2 linked regions of the Homo sapiens genome follow. The protein of the gene in region 1 purifies or fractionates together with the protein of each later gene. This does not show direct contact. Each region holds a gene or a part of one and is shown on either strand. Other genes may lie near its edges.

The links.
Region 2: the proteins of NOD1 (region 1) and OLFM4 purify together in Homo sapiens (co-immunoprecipitation; one study listed by IntAct). This does not show direct contact.

What each region holds. Positions count from the first base shown.
Region 1 is NC_000007.14:30,447,717-30,451,532, forward strand, and holds part of NOD1 (nucleotide-binding oligomerization domain-containing protein 1), read right to left. Parts: coding exon 3,500-3,816; intron 3,361-3,499; exon of another isoform or gene 3,202-3,360; intron 666-3,201; coding exon 582-665; exon of another isoform or gene 576-581; intron 1-575. UniProt on the Homo sapiens protein: Pattern recognition receptor (PRR) that detects bacterial peptidoglycan fragments and other danger signals and thus participates in both innate and adaptive immune responses.
Region 2 is NC_000013.11:53,031,583-53,035,398, forward strand, and holds part of OLFM4 (olfactomedin-4 precursor), read left to right. Parts: intron 1-2,765; coding exon 2,766-2,918; intron 2,919-3,816. UniProt on the Homo sapiens protein: May promote proliferation of pancreatic cancer cells by favoring the transition from the S to G2/M phase. In myeloid leukemic cell lines, inhibits cell growth and induces cell differentiation and apoptosis.

The sequences.
Region 1 (3,816 bases):
TCAGACTCCAAAACCTCAAAGGCTCTGAATGCCCAAAGTTTCTCACAATTCTTTTGGCAACTGATGTGGAGCTACTTATAGTCTTTCTTACCACACTTGGTTTGACTGTTTCATACATTCTGCGGGAGAAATATGAAAGTGTTTGAAAATGGGGCACTGCCTTAGACCCCTGCGGCCACGTCATGCCATAGCATGCACTCAGAATCCCCATTCGGGTCTTGCCCCAAAGGCTCTGGATGAGGGATTATGGACCCAAAATAGTCCAGACTAATATGTAAACAGGATTCTAGCATTTATTAAATATATCCCCTTATATTCTCGTTGCATCCCCCAATAACCAGTTGTAAGCCTACTTGCCTATACTGGGATCCCAGTTTTACAGGTGAGGAGGCTGAGGCTCAGCAAGACTTCATGACTGGCCGAGCCACAAAGAGAACCCAGGACTCTCAACTCCTGGGCCAGCGCTCTTCCCAGCCCTGGGCCATCCGTGCCGATCATCCAGGGACCTATGGGAATGTGAATTCCCTGCAGCTCTGTATTATTACTAGGTAGTTGGCCCAGTGTTCTGGAGAAAGACATACCCCAAATAGGTCACAATTTTGTATTTGGTCAGCTCTTCGCTTAGCACCTTTACCCCACCGTCAGTGATCTGGTTTACGCTGAGTCTGAAATAAAACAGCAAAAAAATTACGAGTCAGGGCAGGCACTCATTATGAAGGACCATTAATCTTACAAAGATCCAGAAGCCTTCAGGCCCTGGAGTTTTCTCAGGTATAGACGCCCCTGGAGAATGGCCACAGCAATCAGCCAAATAGCCCCTTACAAAGCCTGGCCAACGTGGGGCCGCCAGACCCATCCTGCACCAGCCCATGAGCGAGGCTGCAGCACAGCCCCTGGCTCCTCACACGACCGTGAAGGACACAGGGAGGACGTGTGAGGCCAGCCACCTCTGACATCCACCCTTTGCGTGTGACCTATGTGTCAGCCAGACCCTGTACCTGGTTCTCGTATGGTGGAGGGCATGGGTTTGGAAATGTCAGGGGCTGCTTTTAGTGGTTGTGACTGGAGGAGGGAGTGCCCTGTCATCTTGCAGGCAGGGCCAATGATGTTAGGTGTCCTGCAAAATGCTGGACAGGTCTCACAAGAACTGTTATACCCAAAATGCCAACAGCTTCCCCCCATCCAGAAACACATGGGCTAACCCTGATTTGTCACTGGAAAAGGCTGTGAGTCCCACTGTCAAAGGAGACTGCTCATGTCATTCTGTAAAGTGTCAGACAGCAAATATTTTAGGCTCTGTGGGCCATGTGGTCTCTGTCACAGCTACTCAACTGTGTAGTGTGAAGCAGCCAGTAAGTAAATAAATGGGTATGGCTGCGTTCCAATAAAACTTTACTTAGAAACACAAGCCTTGGGCCCAATTAGACCCACAAGCTGACCTTGATAACAAGTAAAAGGCTGAACAATTAAAAGCTTGATTTTTAGGCCACATCAAAATGATCAAGTCAGACACTCTGGACCCTTTCCCTCAGAGTCCCCAGCTTGGTGCTGGGAAATAGTGTGTATGTACATGGCATGGCCAGCCCAAGACAGCACAGGCTGCTAGACATTCCCAATATCTATACTTTCTTAGCAATAGATTCCCCCATCTTTTAGCTGGGCCCATCTCATTAAATTCTGCCCATACCATTAAGTTCTGAAATCTAAGCAGCAATATAATTAGTAATAGCCAAGAAGTGTTCTTAAAAGATTGAGGCATGCTCTCAATCTTTGCCCTTCCTTCTTACTGATAGCTAGAGTGTCGACTAGATGGCTGGAGTTTGAGCAGCCCTCTTGGGCCAAGATGGGAAAGCCGGGTAGTGAGGATGGCAGAACAGGAAGGCAGAAGAGAGCCTGGGCTCCGGAGGGTCATGGAGACTCCATACCAGTCCTGAACTACCTACCTCTAGACTTTTACATGAGAGAAATAAGCTTGTAACTCACCAACATTTGGGGTTTTCGCTCTCAGCTAAAACTAATCCTAACTGATGCAGCCAGAGAACTGAGTGTGCTTCCCGTGGTTACCCATATCCTCTGCTTTCCTACAAGCTGTTTTTTCTTGCACTGGTGTGAAGGAAAGCTTCACCTGGGGACAGCAGGAAGGGCAGGGCCACCACACTGGTGTGGAGTTTCCCATTGAAAAGATGGACAGAGGGGTCGGGTGCGGCGGCTCATGCCTGTAACCCCAACATTTTGGAAGGCCGAGGCGGGCGGATCACCTGAGGTCAGGATTTCAAGACCAGCCTGGCCAACATGGGGAAACCCCGTCCTACTAAAAATACAAAAAACTTAGCCGGACATGGTGGCGTGTGCCTGTAATCCCAGCTACTCAGGAGGCTGGGGCAAGAGAATCGCTTGAACCCAGGAGGCGGAGGTTGCAGTGAGCTGAGATCACGCCACTGCACTCCAGCCTGGGCAACAGAGCGGGACTCCATTTGGGGGAGAAAAAAAAAAGATGGACAGAGGGTGGCACTGAGTGTGAGACTGCCTGGGGCTACAGAGGGAGAGTCACTGGCTGAGAGTACAGAGAACAGACTCCAGGTTTTCCAATTCCCAGGCTAGGGCAGCCTTCGACCCCCTGCACCCCATGTCCCCATGCAATTATTTACACTCTGACACTGGTGTGACAGGCACTGGGAGTCAGTTCCAAATCCCTACTGCTTTTTAGAAATGCATGAGTCAAGTAATGGCAAATTTAACCCCCTGTAGAGATTTACAAGGTTTATTTTACATAGGAAATGCTAATAGAAGAAAACAGACTGGGCTCTGTTTCCCGTAAACTATGGAACAGGAAAACAACCACGAGTCAGCATTTTAACTGAGGTCTCTAGCAGTGTGAAGGGCTGCTAGCGTTGATCACAGAAAGTCACCAGTGCCAACTGGCACAAGGTCTGCTTTCTCTGCAGTAATAAAAGCTCCCATATTCCAGAAACTTTTTGAGGGCTATCTCGGAGCCTTACATTAATCTTAAAAGGAAGGTTCTTTATGCATTCTGGCACTGCTATGTCTGAGCTGTGTGACCTAAAGCAAGCTATTAACTTCTCTGTGCCTCTACTTCCTTATCTGCCAAAATAGAGACAATAACAGTACCTAAGTTACAGGGTTGTAAAGAGCATTCCATTAGGTAATATTTGTAATGCACTTCACCCATTCTCAACTAACATTGGTCCCTGTGGCCATAATTGATAGGATTATGAGCATCTTCTTTTTCCAGATGAGGGCGTGGAGGCTCTGAGAGTTAAGCACTTTGTTCAAGGGCACCCAGCTGTGGCTGATCCAGGTCCACCTGCCTCGAAGCTTTGCACCTTGACCTCTGCCCTGCTAAGAAAGAAAAGGTCTGGACATTCCAAGGGCCATGGTCATGAGTCCTGGGGGATCCTGGTCCATGATGCCATTCCCGATGCCCTCCGAGCCTGGCCCGCCCGGCCCACCTGTTGCTCCCCTTGCCTGGCAGCCTCACCTGAGAACAGTGAGGCGGCTGAAGCAGGGCTGCAGCTCCCGCACGCCGTAGTCGTTGAGATTGTTGTTGTCTAGGTCTAGGGCCAGCCGCTTGGGGAAGTGATGCAGGACGAAGGAGAGGGCGCTGCAGTCGGCCGAGCAGGCGTTGCAGTAGGTCAGCTTGAGGTAGTTGGCGCAGATGCCCCTGGCCGCCAGCTGCCCCACCTTCTGGCTCTGTGTCTCGTAGATGCAGCGCAGCATCCAGATGAACGTGGGCATGGCCTGCACCTGGTTGAAGCTTTCGACCTGAACGCGGGGCAGGCTCTTCAGGTAGCCCCG
Region 2 (3,816 bases), on another chromosome or scaffold:
CTGGTATAGTTGGAACTGCAACGAGTCACGTGTTTTCTTGTCATCAGGCTACAAGGCTGGTTTGAAAAAACAAGTAGGGCTTTCAGAGTGACAGTGGGCCTGATTCCTGGGCAGAAATTGAGTCTTAATCATCTCCCTAAAGCCAGAACCTGGCATAGTGTAGACATCAGTAAATGTTAATTGAACACGTGCTTAGGGAAAACCTACCAATATAAGGTGTCTTGTGAGGTACTCAGGGTCCTATTTGCCCTACAGAAGGGGAATCGCATATTCTTCCAAAGGCCAAGGGGACAAGCTCTTGTCTTTGTCTCCCATCCCCCATGCTTCATTCATGTAGAGTTTGGGCATTCACCGCAGAGAGAGACTCATCACCATTAGCTTCATTGTCTTTGAATGCGAGGAGCAGAAATATCTCTAATGGGAGACACTGATCAAACTTATGGACCATTTTGATGTCAGCTGAGCATGCTGGGCTGATGATAAGCAGGATGGAAGCTGGGGGAGTCCACAGCTTTGGGACAGAGATGTTCAATAGAAACCGATGGAATGGCTGACAGCAGGGCTCATAATTACTTGTCTGTCTTTCAAGTGAACTTCAGGACTAAAAGTTGTTAGCTAGTGGTTCCTAATTGACTGTCTAGAGATTGCTTGATGATATCCACTGTTTTCTGAGTTGGCAGAATTTTTCAGAGAACTCTGAGAATGGCCCAACCCTGTTTGTGCAGCTAATTAAACTCCCCTTGTTAAAATGCAATGCAAGATTTTTTTTTTGCTAGACTGTTATTATAATAAGCTATTTCTTCAAAAGTCCTTGATATGTCGGTCTTTTCTGTAAAAGCCTTGGCATGCTTGAGTTGGAGTCTTTCTATCTTTGGAGAAATGAGTAAAGCTGGTTTCAAGGGAAGCTGGCCTCTCTGATAGGTTCCTGGTGTATCTTACCGAGTCTTTATTCATCTCTGGCAAAGACCCTTCCCCTATTCAAACCCTGCTGTCCACCCCTATGTTCGACATAAATCTGCTTGTTTCTCCTCCCTACTCCTGAACTGTTTCCCACGTAGGGATGTGATTGGAAAAGAAAATTGAGACCAAGGTAATAAATTTTGACTAAACACATAAAAAATATGATTGGATACACACACATATTTTTTTTTTCTGCTCATCTTGAAACTTAAATTAAATTAAAAACAACTTAGATGCAAAAGCCTTGATTGGCCCCGAGGCCAGTGATAAAATAAGTCTTCATTATAGAAGCATCTAGACCCAGCTTGATCAGGCATTATGGAGGTTGGTGGCCATTAAATGCACAGGACCCATTACACCACCTGCAGCTGGCTGACCTGAACTTTGAGAGACATGGCCAGAGTCACTTCTGGCTCTGAAGACCATTGCTGTCTCCTTAGAGGTTTCATAAAAAGTCCCTTCAGGCTGATGTTCCACAGGTGAGCTTTGGGTTGGCTTTCAGATGAGATCATTAAAAGGCACAGCAAATTGGCTGCCAAGGGTTACTCTGTAAGGCAATAGTAGTAATAAAAAAATGTTAATTGTGCTGGGATCCTCTTGGGGAAGTTCAAAGGGGACAAAAGAAAAACAGGATCTTTCAAAAGTGTCATTTAAAAATATGCGGTGGCACTGAAGTGTGAGTCTGAATATCTTAAATGAACATAAAATATTTTAAAATGACTTTTTCTGCAAATGGTAAGCTGGAAAAAAACTTTTATTAAAAAAAATTGCACAAAACCTTCAAGCTCATACGCTATTCACTTTCTAACAAATGGCTGGTTCCCATTTTGAAGGATGTTAATTTGCAATTTCCCAGGCGATGAGAGGATATGAATTTGCATCATATATTTTCACTGTAGCCCACATCTTTGGTGATTCCCTCATTCTGATGAAAAGGAATTGGATTGGGTTGGGGTGAAGGTGAGGAAGAGAAAATGAGCAGTAGAAGGAAAGAGAATGTGACATTTTCAGATCACCTACTCTGTGCCAGGGACTTGGCTCACATTACTTCGTTAATACTGAGGACAACCCTGTGAAGTAGGTTATCTCTATTTTACAGATGAAGGAACTAAGAATTAAGGAGATTTCACATCTAGCAAGTGCTAGAATTGAAATTCAAACTTAGCACTCTCATAGCTTCTTTATTTCCCTTTCCTTGCATAGAGATAGGAATAATCTCCTTTAAGACTCCAGAATGGCCGGGCGCGGTGGCTCACGCCTGTAATCCCAGCACTTTGGGAGGCCGAGGTGGGTGGATCACGAGGTCAGGAGATCGAGACCACCCTGGCTAACACGGTGAAACTCCGTCTCTACTGAAAATACAAAAAATTAGCCAGGCGTGGTGGCGGGCTGTAGTCCCAGCTACTTGGGAGGCTGAGGCAGGAGCATAGAGTAAACCCGGGAGCCGGAGCTTGCAGTGAGCCGAGATCGCGCCACTGCACTCCAGCCTGGGCGACAGAGTGAGACTCCGTCTCAAAAAAAAAAAAAAAAAAAAAAAAAGCCTCGAGAATGGGGAATCTTCCTTTAGGTAAAGTCTGCTGGCGTAGTGGTTTTCGTACAACCAGTGGCGATGTGGCTAAACGCTGGGTGGTCCCCACCTGTGAAAACAAAGCTGTTTTAGCTTGTTTCTATGATTCTATTCATTTATGTATTGGACTCCACTTACTTGCCTGTAAGTACTCTCGACAAGCCAATTTCTGTCACTCCAGTTGCCAAAAGCTCAGATTCCAGCTTGTTATTGATGTTCAACTTGTTATTATTTGCAGTTGTTTTCCAATTTCACCGGCTCCGTGGATGACCGTGGGACCTGCCAGTGCTCTGTTTCCCTGCCAGACACCACCTTTCCCGTGGACAGAGTGGAACGCTTGGAATTCACAGCTCATGTTCTTTCTCAGAAGTTTGAGAAAGAACTTTCCAAAGTAAGCATTTTCTTTTCAAACAATATCTTGATAAAGAGAAACAAAACAAAATGTGTTTTAATTTAGGATTTTATAAGCAATCATTCTTCACTATCAAAGACATCACGTTTTTATTCTATGGTGATTTTAGTATTTATTTTATAGGACACCAATGGAGTTCTTATTAAGGCAGGGAAAATGAGAGCACAGGAAGAAAGTGGGGTTCAAATTGTTCACGCCGTGGATAAACTCACTATAGTATTGTGGTACTTAGGCAGTTGGAAAGAAGCCTTGAGCTCTCCTTGCAAACCCCAACCTGCAATTTTTATTTTGTTTTGACGCTGCTTCTTCCTTTTGGTCTTCTAGGTCTTTCCTCAAGCTTTGCTTTCTTTTCTTTCTTCTCCTCTATCCCCTTTAGTTCTATTCTATCTCCCTTCTCTTTTTCCTTTTCTTCTATTTCTATTCCATTCCTGCATCCTTTAGTTTCTTATTTCTCTTGCCTCAATCCTTGCCCTTATTCATCCCTTCTAATCTCTCTTTTCCTTTCCTGGTTAATTCTTTTTTGGGGGGGACATTTTTGGGTATTTTCTTACTTTTAGATGATCTTTTTTTCCCTCCTTCTTTTCCCTTCCTCCACTTCCACTCCTTCAAATCCTCTCCCTCTCATCCTCCTCCCTCCCTCTCTCTTTCCTTTAACCCTTTTTTATCTTTACAAATTGCTCACTTCCTTCTCTCTCCCCCTCACTCTCTTTTTTTGTGACAATAAGTTGTAGTCTCTTTTATTTTTTTCTATTTTCTCCAAGTGAAATCCAAGGTTGTAGTCTCTTTATTTTTAATCTTATTTTTTTTTGGTGTATAGTAGGTGTATGTATTAATGGGGTACATGAGATACCCTGAGACAGGCATGCAATGCGTAATA